2 linked regions of the Homo sapiens genome follow. The protein of the gene in region 1 purifies or fractionates together with the protein of each later gene. This does not show direct contact. Each region holds a gene or a part of one and is shown on either strand. Other genes may lie near its edges.

What was found.
Region 2: the proteins of FHL1 (region 1) and RBPJ purify together in Homo sapiens (affinity purification with western blotting; 4 studies listed by BioGRID and IntAct, with this or other methods). This does not show direct contact.

What each region holds. Positions count from the first base shown.
Region 1 is NC_000023.11:136,192,031-136,200,048, reverse strand, and holds the start of FHL1 (four and a half LIM domains protein 1), read right to left. Parts: upstream 3,003-8,018; 5' UTR 2,937-3,002; coding exon 2,915-2,936; intron 1-2,914.
Region 2 is NC_000004.12:26,414,994-26,422,017, reverse strand, and holds part of RBPJ (recombining binding protein suppressor of hairless), read right to left. Parts: intron 6,544-7,024; coding exon 6,378-6,543; intron 1,468-6,377; coding exon 1,293-1,467; intron 1-1,292. UniProt on the Homo sapiens protein: Transcriptional regulator that plays a central role in Notch signaling, a signaling pathway involved in cell-cell communication that regulates a broad spectrum of cell-fate determinations.

The sequences.
Region 1 (8,018 bases):
TCAGTATCTTAATTAAAAGTTTTGGCTTTCAATTTAATCATGTACACATACAAGTAATATAACATTACAACATTTGTTTTTTTCTTTTTTCTTTTTTACTATAAACCTCTCATTACAGTCGATTTGTATTTAATAAATCTTGCTTGTGTTTTTACATGTATTTTCTCATGTATTTCTTCCTATTGTTCATCTTCTCCCTCATGCCTGAGTTGCTCAAACTATGAATATTTAAGGAGAATGTGAATATCATGAGTAGGTAGCATTTTTCTATGTGTTTTCCATGAAGGGTGTAATGTACAGTGTAAACAATGAACAACAACCCAAATGGAAAAAAATCAGGTTATTTCAGATCTGTTCTTCACTAAATCCAACCTACCAGTACATTAGTGACTCCACATATAAACACTGGCTTCTAAAGAAAGGGTATAATGCTTTCCTCAGAACATTCAACAGATGGAGCAAAGCCTTAGCCAATGAATAGGACACTTGTGTAATAGACATGCTAATGCACCTGGAGGTGTCGTCAGACATTTGGGAATAAATACCTAAGTAGCTGCAATGAGACGGAGCTCATGAGTCACGGCTGAAAAGTAGTCTTTCATACAATTTCATACAAAAATCAGAAAGTGTTTTTTCCCTTCAAAATAGAACGTGTACAGAATGATTCAATGTAATTAGCAACTTCACTGGTATGCTGCATTTAGAAAAAAAACAAATCTTTTTTGGGTCACTGATGTATAACTAATGCCATTTTAGATTATATCGGGTGTCAGGAGGGTTCGATATAGATTATTAAAAGAAAAATTATGTGCCACTGAACTTCCTGCAGTCCAGATTCAATTCTAGTACCATTTTGTCTGTATATGAAGATTTTTCATAATGTTGCACAGATTACGTGCAACACAGCCCCTCTTTCATATGGGAAAAAAAGCATTTCTGACCCGGCAGCAAAAGAGCATGTGTTTTTAGTTTCTCCAGCTGTGGTGAAGTAGTAGGTAGTCATTTGGTGGTCATCAAAAGCACAAAATGTTCAGTTTCACTCTCACTCAAATCTTCTGTATTTTAAGAAGCCAATCCAGTTGGATTACTTTCCTCTCATCCTACCCTCTCATTTTCCATCCCTGCCCTGAGAAAAGACTGGCGGGCTTGTGCGGCCCACTGAGCAGCAGCTGGTGAAGGGAATCGATGGCTGTGTAATATGGCAAGTGACCTGATCCCCCTCCACACCCCAAACCTGGTTTTCGACTTGAAAGGCCAAAGGCTAAAGAAATTGAATCTACATAATTTTGCAGACAGAAAGTCTTCAATGTCAAGAGTATACATTGTTTTTGTCCTTGAAATGTCCTCTCAGTATATGGATAGTCACTAAAAATGGATTTGGATCCAATTATCCTAGCTTCTATTTTGCCCATACTGAGCCCGTTTCAGGGCAACACTGATTTTCTATGAGGACTTCTCTGTCTCATGGACTGATTCTTCTCTGCTTTCATGAATCTATTAACCTAATGCAATACAAAATGCAATTTCCTGAATTCAAAAATCATCTAAAAGGTATAAATAATTGGTCCCATTTAGCCACAGTTATTAGAGCCTCCAGACTTACATACACAAGAACGACATAAGAATTTGGTGCAATTTAAAACCCAAGGTTGGGTATGCTATAAACTTTCTGTCACTATTTAAACTTTTAAACTTTCTGTCACTATTCTGTCACTTAATTAGTAAACAAAATGAGAGTTATTCTACCAGGTAACATGCATTTAAGGTTCATCAGGACAACTAGCACAGCTGACTAGTTTGCCTACACCCAGAGAATGTGTATCTTGGCTGATAACCACAATCTCAAGCATTTGGTACCATGTTTGTGAAACAGCTCCTGAGGGTTGGAAAAAAAAAAAAACCAGACAACTTTTGAACACTTGGGAACAGGGAAGACATTACATATTAATTCATTAAGGTAGGGCATTCCATTGCAGCATATTTAAAACCCCAAAAAGAGAAATTTCCTAAAGTATTTCCATTGTTTAAATATTGACAGGCAATGAGTTTTAAAAAATGATTTTTCAAAAAAAAAAAAAAACATAGATAATGACATCCCTTAATCTGAAAGCTGGGAGACAGGATGAAGTGCCTTCTTTATATCTAACCGTCTGACTTTACCAGCCCCAAGAAAGGGAACCGTTACTTAGGCAGAGGGCCACAGGGCCACAGCCACCCTCCTGGCTTCAAATAACTGGGCTTTTGGCCCCTCAGCCCCTAGTTCATAGATTTCTTGTCGATGGCCAAAGGGCTTCCTTAATTGTAAGGTTACAAAACCAGAAGAAAATGCTCATGTCCCAAGGAGTCCAAAATGTGCCCCTTTTTCTGCTAAAAACAATTAATAACATACTTAGCATATCAAAAGGAACATAGCTGTTACTTCGGGAAGATTTAAAACATTGTCAGCAAAAGGGAAGATGTGCTAGGTCATTATGGACTTTCTTAGTTACAAATGTTCCTCCTTTCAGCTCCACATTCGATTTACCTTCTCCAAACACCTTGGATGTAAAGCACTGTCAAGATGAAGAATTGTATCTTATAAAAAAGAAAGCCAAAAATTCCTAACCAGAAAAACCTTTCCTCCCACAATCTCTTATAGTTTCATGAGATGTCCTGAAAAAGGTAAAAATATAGTGGTAACATGTTTATATACTTCTTTTTAAAATAAATCACTCAAACTGTTCATTGTACTTGAACAATATTTTGTCTTTGAAATAGCATGAAAGGCAAAGGCAAAACAGAGACAAGCTATAATTTATTTACTATTCAGACAAGACTAAAATCATTTCATCAAAAACCATCTTTTAGCCCAATGACGGATTCACTGCCCTAACAAAACTGTGCTCAATATAAGATAAAGAGCATGAAGTTTTACCTGAGTGTCTATGGGAAGCCATGGCTCAGAGACCAAGTTCAGGAGCAGCACCTAGACCAGTCTTCCCTCAACCCCAGCTGATAAGGCTGTGGCTCATTTGTGAACATACATTTAAGGGGAAGCGGCTAACACAAAAATAACCGAGAGCAGATGTCCCACCCCTCCCCAGAGATCACAACCTTAATCCCACTAGAAAATTCTTAACCATTTTAGGTGATCCAAGGGAGAAGAATAGGACCCAGTAAAAATACCAAACGCTACATATAAATACCTGCGGGGCTACTCAGCATCCAAATTAGCTCCAGAGCCAGAGAGGCCACATAGAAAGTCATCCCTGTACCGGAATAAAATTTGGACTCGGCTCTGGCATAGCTTAACGCTGAGCCAACCTTATTAATCCACTTTATATGCCTCAAGAGCTTGCATTTGGCCCTGTAAATAATACATTTTTGTGCTGTTAATGATAAAAGTAACTCTAAGAGATAGACTTATGTTACCAGTGTAACTCAAGGAGATTAGACAGTATGAATATAGAGATTAAGGGGATTATAGATGTTGTCACTCTATGTCCTCCTTAGTATGTTCCAGAGATCAGCAGATTACTGTACAGGAAAGGAGAGTGATCGTAATCTCCCCACCTCCTTAACGGCAGACAGCACAGAACAAGATGGGGAGACTATGCCTATCCCCATCACACACACAATGAAGACATTTTGTCTCACAAACTCAACCTCTTGTTTTTCAGCATCAGGGACAATAAAAGGAAAAACATGAATGAAAATGAAGACATCAACCTAAAATGTTGTAATAGCTCAACAGGCCATCAGATGTCTGGGGGCTGGCTATTAGGAGCATGTTCTAGGAAAAGAAAGCCCCCAAGTCCCTCCAGGACCTTCTTCCACATTCCTTCTCTGGCCTTACCCTTAGCCCCCTTTCCCTCACTCCCACCTCACTGGCCTCCTCACTGTCCCCTGTGCCCAGAGTCATGGTTGTTCCTTTCCCTACTTCAAGTCTGCTGGTATTGCACTGATTTCTCTCCTTGCTGTCTGATCTCCTGCTTTGCTCCATGAAGGCAGGGATTTAGTACTGGAGCTCACTGCAGTGGCCCCAGAGCCTAGAACACTGCCCAGCTCCCAGGAGGCTCTCAATAACTATTCCTTGAAAGAATGAACTAAATAACTGAAAAATCCATCAAGCCTCCAAAACATAGTCCCACCTGCAATCCTGAAAGTGGTTTTGGCCACTCAACTTCAAGGAAGGCAGCTGACCTTCTCGCTGGTACAGACACCTTTATAGCCACTGTCTTGTTTAAGTGGTTTTGGCCCTATTCACACATCTCCCCTACCAGGTTGAGGGCCAGGGCAGTGCTTTGCTTGTCTTCATGTTCCTATAGCACACAGTAGGTGAGCAGTAAATGCTCCATGAATAAATGAATGAATGAGTTCCCCAATTCTTACGATCTTCAAATGTTTAAGGAAAAGTTATTCTAAAAGACAACTGACATCAGTAACTCCCAGTTAGCTAGAAAATGACACAATAAAAGCCAGGTTGTTACGAGTAAATTTATTACATGTTAGAGGAAAAAAATAAGCCTGGGAAAAGAAGAGAAGCTACACTGTGCTCTGGCTCCACGCCTTTCTAGTCTCTTTCTCATCCAGCCTGATTAAATTATGGTGCGGAGATTAGCCAGTTGTAACAACACCACACCCCTAAAATAAACTGAAACTTTTCACCTAGAGGAAATTCTCTTACTTTATTAGATGATTAACCTTAATGAACCCTGAATTTTTTATTTTAGCAAGTTATATTTTTAGGAAGAGCCCATGTATGTTGAAATGCCTCTCTTGCAGCGCTGTGAACAATAGGCTTGGTGTGCCAAATACTTTCCTTTAGGAAGTCAATTCCTGTTTCAAGCTATGCATCAGGAAGTGTCTTCTTTTAGGCAAGTATGGTAGTTCTTTAGGTTTCTGATCATTTTGAAAAGTGACAACAGAATATGGATAGACAGCTTTATGAAAGTATCAAAAAACAAATCTGTTTTGCCTAAAATACAAGAGAAAATTCAAAGACAAGAGAATCACTTTTTGACCACCATGAATTAGTCAACTATGACCAGCCAGGATGGACTGGGAGCTTGGGCCTGCAACAATAGCATTTATTCCAGTTACTTCCATTTGCATCAACCAGGTAACTGTGCCCTCCTAAAAACTTCATGAAGCATGACCACTACCTGCTCTGACATCTGGCCCTACTGCAGATGTCCTCAAGCCACAGAATTAGACCTTCCACAAAACCAAGACAGAAACAGCCCCTTGCATGATGAGAAACAATTTCTTAGGAAGAATAGTTGGTAACTTTGTCCTGTCTTGGATCAGTGGCTCAGAACCCTTGCTGGCTATTTCACAGGTACCTGGAGTCACGGGTTTCATTGGCATATTAGTCAATCTTGTTATATATTAACAGTATGATGTTTAATAATATCTTTAAGAATCACTGTACTGTTTACAACGCACCTTTATATACTATTGGTGGAGTTGGCTGGTGTTTGGGAGCAACTCTCTTTGGTGTATGATGGTTACATTTCAGGCCTTCTAGTCTCACACTCTAGCAGTATCCGGACGCTTTTTTCAGTGAGTGCTAGGTATCAAACTCCCTGTTTCCCTTCCATGTGACCCTCTGCGAATCATTTACTTCAGGGTTTATCTACACATCCTTATGGTCCTACTATCTGCAGATACATTATGACCTATTATTGGGTTAACCTGTAGATAATGCCGCCCCAGCCATTGCTTTATTGTATATGACAAGCATTTATTGGACAGATGCCCTACTATGTGGTGCAAGGTATTTTACTGGTCACAAAGAATAAAATACAGTCCTTACTTTCAAGTGTAACAAGATAAATATGCAAATGACTACTATGCAAGGCAGAGCCTTACAAGTATTACAAGAAAGGTATAAAGTGTTACTGACATTTATCACAGGGAGAGATCACATCTGGTTTGGAGATGAGAAAAGACTTGATGGATGTCACGGCATTTGACCTGGTCCCTGAAGAATGATTAAGACTTTGGCATGCAGACAAGGGGGAGGGAGTGTTCCAAGAAAATGGTACCATGTCACCTAAGGTATGAGAAAAACACAGGACGTGTTCAAGAAGCAGGATGCAGCTGGGGGGGGTTGGGGTGTGACAGAAGCACAAGATAAGGAAGTAGTAGGACCGAAAGCTAGAGAGGAGGGAAAGCCACACACGGAGGATCTTTCTGCAACTGGTGCAAGGGGAGAATGAGATGGAGTCATGCAAGCAGTGATAAGAAGAGCAGATCTCAGAGAAGAGAGGAGGCAGGGAAGACAGCACAGGGTAATGCAATTGTCCACTGAGATGCAAGGAAAGACTGAAAGAATGAGAGGCAGGGGCAATGGGCATGGAAAGGAAAAACTAGATATAAGGGACACTGTGACAGGGCTACAAGAACTGAAAGAAGGGGAAGGAGCCAAGGATCTCTCTGAGGTTGTGACTCTGGGTGACTGGGAAAATAATGGGGAATATGGGAGGCAGAGCTGGTGTAGGGAAGAATGGCACTTTATTTTAGACTTCACAATGAGTTTCTTCTGAGATGTCAATAATGAACCCCCTTTAATGGGATCCCAGTTATCAAGGAGCGAGAGAGAACAGTAAGATTACAGTAGAATCACGTTTGTGGGATTTCTCACACTGCAATCTAATCCTAGCCTCTCTACCTCAGAAACACCACTGGGAGGATCAAACTTCAAAAGTTCAAAGTGGTGCAACCGAAGAATCAAACACGGCAAATTCAGTGACCCACTTAGCCCACATTTCAGGACTTCCTCATTCACAGCTTGACTTGTGGTCACCCTTCTCCCTTTACTAGATTTTTCTTTTCCTGAAGAAATTTCCAAATGGTTAAAAACTTATTCAGACAATTACTGGCCATTAGTCATGGCCAGGGGCAAGAGGCTGATAACAAACTGTAATGGAGTCTTTGTGGATTTCTCCGTGGTTTCATGTCCAGTTGTTTTTTTTTTTTTTTACATGACTCTTCTTTCCCTCATATCTACTACTAATAAATTAATAGACTGCAAGTTTTTTTCTCAATATAATTTTGTCAGGCTACTTAATCCCTCTGCCAACAATTTCTCCTGAGTGAGTCCAACTGCAAGATTAAGGCAACTAGTCATGCACTATGATATGATGTGATTCAATGTTGAGCTCTCCAGAGTATTTCTTGTCCTATGTACTCTTGCCAGAAAAAAGCTCAGAACAGCTTCAGCCATCTCATGTTCCTGTCAATCTTTAAGGTGGGAAGAGTACTTTTTCCTACTGACACGTCCAATTTTGCAAAGTCACTGCTTAAATGTCACAATTCATGGCATACCCATCAGAGAGTAAAATGAAGGAGCACCCCTGGAACCCCAAGAGGGGGGATTTGGTCATGTAAGGTCCTAATGAAAACAAACCTGAAATTCAGCCTCCCCAAAGGGTCTCTGAATCTCAGAGAAAAGGAAAAGGTATGAAAGAAGACCTGTAACAAATGAGAAGATACATGAAATAAAGGACACTGTAAACAGCAAAGCACCTGGAAAATGCTAATTAACTCCACTGAAGACCTGTTCATTTCACAGTTGACCAGGGCTTAGAATTTTCCTTATAATATTCACAGAGAGATTACGAAGCATGAGCCATGGCCCCTGTCTTTTGATTTTTGGTAATGTCATGATCAGTAACAGTTTTAAATGTCTCTTGTCCCCAAAGTCTGTGCCCTTCCTGTGTTACTACTAGACTTTTACCAAGAGGTAGGAACTATCCTAACCACATCCTACAGATACTTTATGGGCCTATAACCAGAAATCACTATCAGGAAAACACCGAACAAATGACTTTCAGAGCATGCCTAGGATGATATTTTTCAAAAAACAGAAGTGGCAAAAAAGTAAAAGAAGTAAAGAAAACAGAAACAAGAAAATGTTTTAGAAAGAGATATATAACATAAATACAGAATCTAAAATCAAAGGAAAATAAATGTTTCAGGAAACTGAGAAGCTGGTAAGGATAAATCTTTGTCACATTTTAGATGTTAAAATT
Region 2 (7,024 bases), on another chromosome or scaffold:
CATAGAAGGAAAACAAAGGTGAGAGAGGGTGAGAAGAAACTATTACAGACTAAAATGTGTGGACCTTATCTGAATCCATGTTTGAACAAACCACTGTAAAACAAAACAAAGCAAAAAAACTATAAAAAGACATTCTGGGTCAATCTGATAAATCTGTACATGAAATAGGATATTAGATGACACTTAAGAGCTGCTGTCAACTGTTACGTATAATGATGTTTCAAAAAAAAGGGCATGTATTAGTCACTATTGCAGAAATTTTGGTTGAAAGGATAGGATGAGATTTACATTAAAATACTCCAGCAATTAGAAGACGAAGAGGTGTTGGTGGTGATGGAGATAATGAAACAGAATTGATAAAACCTGTTGAGGCTGGGTGGCTAATTTCTCCCTTTTATATAAATTTGAAAGTCTCAGCCAGGCATGGTGGCTCACGCCTGCAATCCCAACACTTTGGGAGGTCGAGGTGGGTGGATCACCTGAGGTCAGGAGTTCAAGACCAGCCTGGCCAAATGGCGAAACCTCATCTCTACTAAAAAATACAAAATCAGCCGGGCGTGATGGTGGGCACCTGTAATCCCAGCTACTCAGGAGGCTGAGGCAGGGAGGATTGGTTGAACCCGGGAGGTGGAGGTTGCAGTGAGCTGAGATCCTGCCACTGCACTCCAGCCTGGGCGACAGAGTAAGAGTCCATCTCAAAAAAAAAAAGAAAAGTCTCCATAATAAAAAGTTAAAAAAAGAAAAATGGGTGTGGAGGTTAAATTTATAATTCAAACATACTTGTTTGGTAGTCTAAAAATAGGCTGATGAGACAGCAGTCTCTGCCAGAGCAACCACATTAAAAATTGTGTTTAGATTCTCAGGAAGGCCTGCCAAAGCCCATTTAGTTGGTAGCGTTTTTCAAAGGGGTACTTGTTGACATTGTGGGTAGATCAATTCTTTGTGGAATGGGAACTACCTTGGACACTGCAGGACATTCAATTCAGCACCACAGGCTCAAGACACCCAAAGCCAACATCACCCCCTCCAGTCACTGTAACAACAGAAGGAGAAAATCTCCCATTTCCCCAGAATGTCCCTGGGAGCATTAAGGAACCAACTCTGGTTAAGAACTGCTTCATTAGACCACATACTGTCGATTTACGATTAAAAAAAGAGAGACAATAAAGAGGGCCACAAAAATATTAGTAAAGAATTAATTGGCTATTGAAAAGGCAATTTTTAATTTAAAAAAGAGTCTGTCTTATTAATTCATGGTGGCAGTTGGGGATAAATAAGAAAAGCATACATACAGTCAGCATTTTTCAATGACTGCTTCTTTTTGGAAGGTTTGGAGATGACTTTTATCCGCTTGCTGAGGAACACACCAATGTCATCACTGTTGCCATAGAACATCTTTACAGACAACATGAAGTGCTTTCGCTTGTCTGAGTCAGATATATACAATGTTTTGGCTGTGCAATAGTTCTGTGAAAGAAAAGTAAAGTTTTAACAGCAGCAAAACCTTGTTTGTTTATGTAGTACCTAAAACTCAGAATGGCCATGGTTTAAGTAATAAGTAAAACAATTCCAAGGGATAGCTGATAAAACCAACTCTAAAAATTATCAACTATAAAAATTACTGAAATTGATTTCGGAAAAGTACAAAGTCTTCCTTATAAAGTCTGTAGAACACAAACATTGTCATCTATTGTATCCTCTTTAAAAGACCATTTAAAAAAACAGCCTTTTCTTGTTTTACATAGCTCTACAACTGTATCATGGAATTATCACTCAACGTTACAGCAGTAACTTTTAAAATAAATTTTACAGTTAAAAAAAATCAATGACTTTCTCCAAAAAAAAAATAATAATAAAGCTATCAGAATTCAAGAAATTATGTAAAAGATTTTAGCAGTAGTTCTTCTCAAAATAGTGCATAAAATATTTTTCTTTATATAGCTGAACACTAGAGTAATCACTTATAAGATTGAGGAAAACAATGATAGACAAACTGGATGATTATAAAATATCTTAAACCAGAAAGAGATTATATAAGCATTACTTTAAAGAACTATTTTTAAAATGGTTAACTTTGCCCAAAAGGACGATTCATATGTATCACCAGAAGAACTGAATTTAAAGGTACTAGAGAAAATGCTCAAGGCATTATGTCAGTTTACCAGAATTTAAATTCTGATAACTGAAAAGATAAAGAGATATAGCACTTTACAAACAGCAAAGACCCTTCAAAATGCTACTGCTTATATTATATATAACAATTCTAAAATCTTTCCTATTCTCTTGATCCCTGTGAATCAGGGAGGGGTCTAAATTATTGTCCTTTTCCAGATAAGATAAATGATGCTGAAACACAGCATAAGTATCTAAAGTATCGAATTATATTTTTTAAAGGATCAACATTCCACTTTAAAATTAAGCTAAACAAGTTTCTTCAACTGCCTCTCCTGTATCTTCCTTTTAAAAAGCAGAGCAAATGCTACTCAGGAAACAGTTAATGACTTCTAGGTTTTTATCTTTAAAATTTTATTCACAGACAGCCTCGGTAGCAGACAAAACTACTGCAATAGTTTATTGTATTTCTCATAGCAAAGCTATATAAGAAAATTTAGATGCCATCTTGAACATTATACATTTAACTAAGTTTTTAAAAATCAAAAGTTTGGTAAAAGCTTTGAGAGGTTTTGCTCTGTAGAAGGCAAAAATAAGATAAAGCCAATCATAGTAATAAATAAAAACAGGCCAGGGTGGTGGCTCATGCCTGTAATCTCAGCACTTTGGGAGGCCAAGGTGGACAGACTGCTTAAGTCCAGAAGTTTGAGACCAGCCTGAGCAACATGGTGAAACCCCATCTCTACGAAAAACACAAAAATTATCCAGGCATGGTGGTGCATGCCTGTAGTCCCAGCTACTCAGGAGGCTGAGGTGGGACGGTCGCTTGAGCCCAGGAGGCAGAGGTTGTAATGGGCCGTGATCCCACCACCGCACTCCAGCCTGGGCGGCACGGTGGCACCCTGTCTCAAAATGAATAAAGATAAAGAAACAAAAAACAACAGTACTTTGCAGTCACATCACTCCTTGCACCCAAGATCTCTAACGCACTCAGAGATGGCATCTGTGAGCTGCTATACCCATAGGTCGGCCATACTCTTAAAAGTGACAGACAGCATTGAAGGTCAAATTAAGCCTAAACAATGAAATTCTTCTGCAACATAAGACGAGGTCTATGAAAATGGGTATCAATGTACTAAAGCAGACAGTCATGGGAAGCAAAAATGAAATTTATATCTAAATGAAGGTAATTACATTCTAATGGGAAAGCTTAAAAATGTTGAGATGGCTTTTGAGTGTTAAAATTAAAAGGTAAGATCCATATCAGAAAGAGAAAATACTGAAATCCAGCATAAATAAGACATATTGGCAAACAAGAACGGAAAAAAAGAACCAAGAAGGTTGGATCATAAGACCTACACAAAAAGAACTGCATTTTGTTCGGAAAAAACAAACACACATATATCTCCTTGGAAAGAAAGGAAATATATCCCTAATTACAATGAGTAGTTTGAATCCACAAAAATCATAATCAAGATAATTTTATGGGAACTATTAGTTTTAAAAAACTATAAGGCCACTGACCACAAACTACTCAAATTCCATTAAGAAAAGAAGGAAAAAGTCACTGACTCATAGAAAATAAGCAAATAAAACTAAAATTACATTTGCCTTGCTATTGCAAAAGGTTAAATTAGCTAACGGAATTCTAGAAGAGAAAATGGCATATAATCATCTCTCTAGAAATACTCTTTGAAAACAAGATCTTTAGGCAATAAAAGACATTTCCCTGAAAGAAAGAAGAAATACCAAATCTAATGCTGCAAAGTGATACTGCAGAAATGTTTAAATTATAGAAACAAAATGTTACCAAGAGTATATGATGTTTAAAAATAAGAAAAACACAAGAGTGTTAACTAAGTCATCCTTGTTGCGTAGCTTACCTAGCTGTGACTATAAAAAATGTAAATTTTTTTAACAAATTAAAAACATTACACAAAATCTAAGATCCAACATATTACCTACATACAGCCAAATGTCATGACCATAAATTTAAAGGGCTAGATATACTAGAATTTTGTTGCAGTGAATATTTAAAATAAGTATAAACACCAAAAATTGCAAAATGAATATCCCATATTTCTCAATAACTAATTGTACCACTCAATGAACAGACTATTTCCTTACACGAATGGAGTTTAAGTGAGGCAGACAAGAGCAAAGTGCCTCTCACTGAAGCTCAGAATCCGCTGCTCAGGACATCTTTGCCTACCTTGGTCAAAACCATGTTCTTATACCTTTATGCTCTAAGCACATGATTATATTGTTTTTTTTTCTGCCTGGGATGCCTTCTACTAACTCTCACCAGTCTTGCTTTACATAAACTTCCCTAATAGAATTTTTCCTTAAAATTAAATATTAACATATAATTTTGGCTTACAGACATTGTACTAACCTATTACTAGGTATTTTAAATACTAGTTAAATGCTCAAGCTCTCAGGTATTCTATTCCTCTTCTGCCAGTTTCTAGGCCTTGGGGAAAGGGTATACTAGTGGAAGTTGAAGAAAGATATAATGAAAAACAGCAGAAAGATCTCCATGTTGAGGCAGCCCCTAAAGGTACAAAATTAGGATGTGGCACTACTAAGCCACAATGCTGCGAAAGGCAAGCAGTGATACTACTGGTTGGTTTATTTGGTATCACCTCATTTAAAATTACTGGAAGCTGGAACTGGTTAAAATGAGCAATGAAGTAGGATTAAACAGTTATACACACAGGTAGCTAGAATCCCTGGCTTCTCACTACCTATCTGATCCACTCATTCATAGTACTGAATGTCTACATGTGAAGCCTGGAGACATATAACTCTGAGACTTCCTAGGTAACAAGAAAACAGATGAGACAAGACTTAAGATCTATTAGATCAACCCACCACTTAAATATATTCGTTACTTTAGCTCAGGGATCATAATTTAGAAATAGTTTTAGTGGTTTAAGATGAAACAATCTTTATTGTAATAAGTATTATCCCAAATCTAATTTAAAATACATAGTCAACAAATCTTACTTACAAAAACTATAAAGATATAAATGACATACAAACAGCTAAATTTGAAGGAGGTTGACATTAAGACCTGTAGTACTATCTGTAAAATCACTAAAATTCAATTTGAGAGTACAAATCCCCTAGCTCACCTCCACCAACACTACTCCCAACCCATATACCTAGTGCCAACTACAACATAGCAAACACTAAAATATTCAACAAGGATGTATCAAATAATGAAACAGCTGTTTATGCGCTATTTTAGAAGATGTTTAGTCATTGAGATCAGAACTAACCATTTTCCAAAGTACAGTAGCAAGGAAAAATAAAACCATAGCTAAATTCTAAGTGAATAAAAAACTATCTTTCAATACTAAAAGTATAGATTGGCTGGACACGGTGGCACACACCCGTAATCCCAGCACTTTGGGAGGCTGAGGTGGATGGATTGCTTGAGCTCAGGAGTTCAAGACCAGCCTAGGTAACATGGCGAAACCCCATCTCTACAAAAAAATACAAAAAAGTTAGCTGGACATAGTGACACACACCTATGGTCCCGCTACTTGTGAGGTGGAGGTTGCAGTCAGCCAAGATTGCACTATTGCATTTCTGCATGGGTGACAGAGTAAAAACCCTGTCCCGGGGGAAGAAAAAAAAAGATCTAGATTGACTGCTTTCTAAATTCATACAATATAATCAGTAAAACTAGCTGATAGATTGTTTTCTCTAGAAAATTAATTGAAGAACCCCTGCCACGCACTAAAATTTGAGTAAAGCCAACTGTGGCTGTTCTTGTCTACAGTATCACTCTGCTTCACTCTGATGTCAAGTAAACGTTTATGATCGTTATAACCCAGATAAATGCTTTCCACAATGTATATATCATCGTGTCTAGTATAAAACTAAGATTAAAATAGCAGAGTAAAACATTACTGAACAATGTATTTTTGTTGATAAACCTCTGTCAAACAGAAGATGAGCAATCAGCCTCCTAAATTTATTACTGGCTTCCAATAGAAATCTGATTTATAGTCTGCTAAAACTGCTTGCAAGCTGGGGAAGCTTACTGCATGCCACCTTCCAATGTCAGCAGCGTAAGCTTCATGAGTGACTAGACCAAAGCTATGAGAGGCATGTTTTTTGGTCCTAGTTTATATATTCAAGAAATTGTTACCAATAGTTATTAAAGAAAAAAATCTCCACCACAAAAATGAATATGAAAACTACATTCTGGTACCATGGTGCCCCTTTCTGGTGAACTAGCAGTCTTGATTTACCTTTCCTTCCAAGTTTAGCTGCTGCATTTCTTGGTCACTATTTCCTATCCCAATAAATGCACACGGTTGAGACTCTTGTTCAGAACAACCATCGCGTTCCATTTGTTCTTTTTTTTTCTTCCATCCACTGCCCATAAGATATACACAAGGAGGTGGGCAAAAAAACCTGAAGAATAATAGGGGAAAAAAAAAAACAAGAAGCAAAAATCAATTAGATTCAATAAAGCATTTCCTTTCCTTGAACATTATGAATACAAAATCATATTGAAATGCACCTATTCCCCAATGAAAAATTTTGGTGAAGCCTTTTGTAATGCAAATAATCATGCCCACAGGACAGAAATCGGGACTTCCACAATGACTAAATCTGTTCAGGCAAAATATTGGAGTTATGCATACAGTTAGATTAAATACTTTTTAGAGTACAGAACTTCTCTTTGTATGGCTCAGAGTTCTAAATTACCAGAGTTCAGCAAATCCAGTGTACTCTAACATATTACAAAACACGATAAACCACCACAAAAATCTGTAATTACTAATTAAGGCCTATTCAAAATGACACAATCATTAATGAGTGACATTACTATTATGGATACTGCATTTAACTTAATGTGGTAATTAACCTGGAAAATTGTGTTAGAGCATTG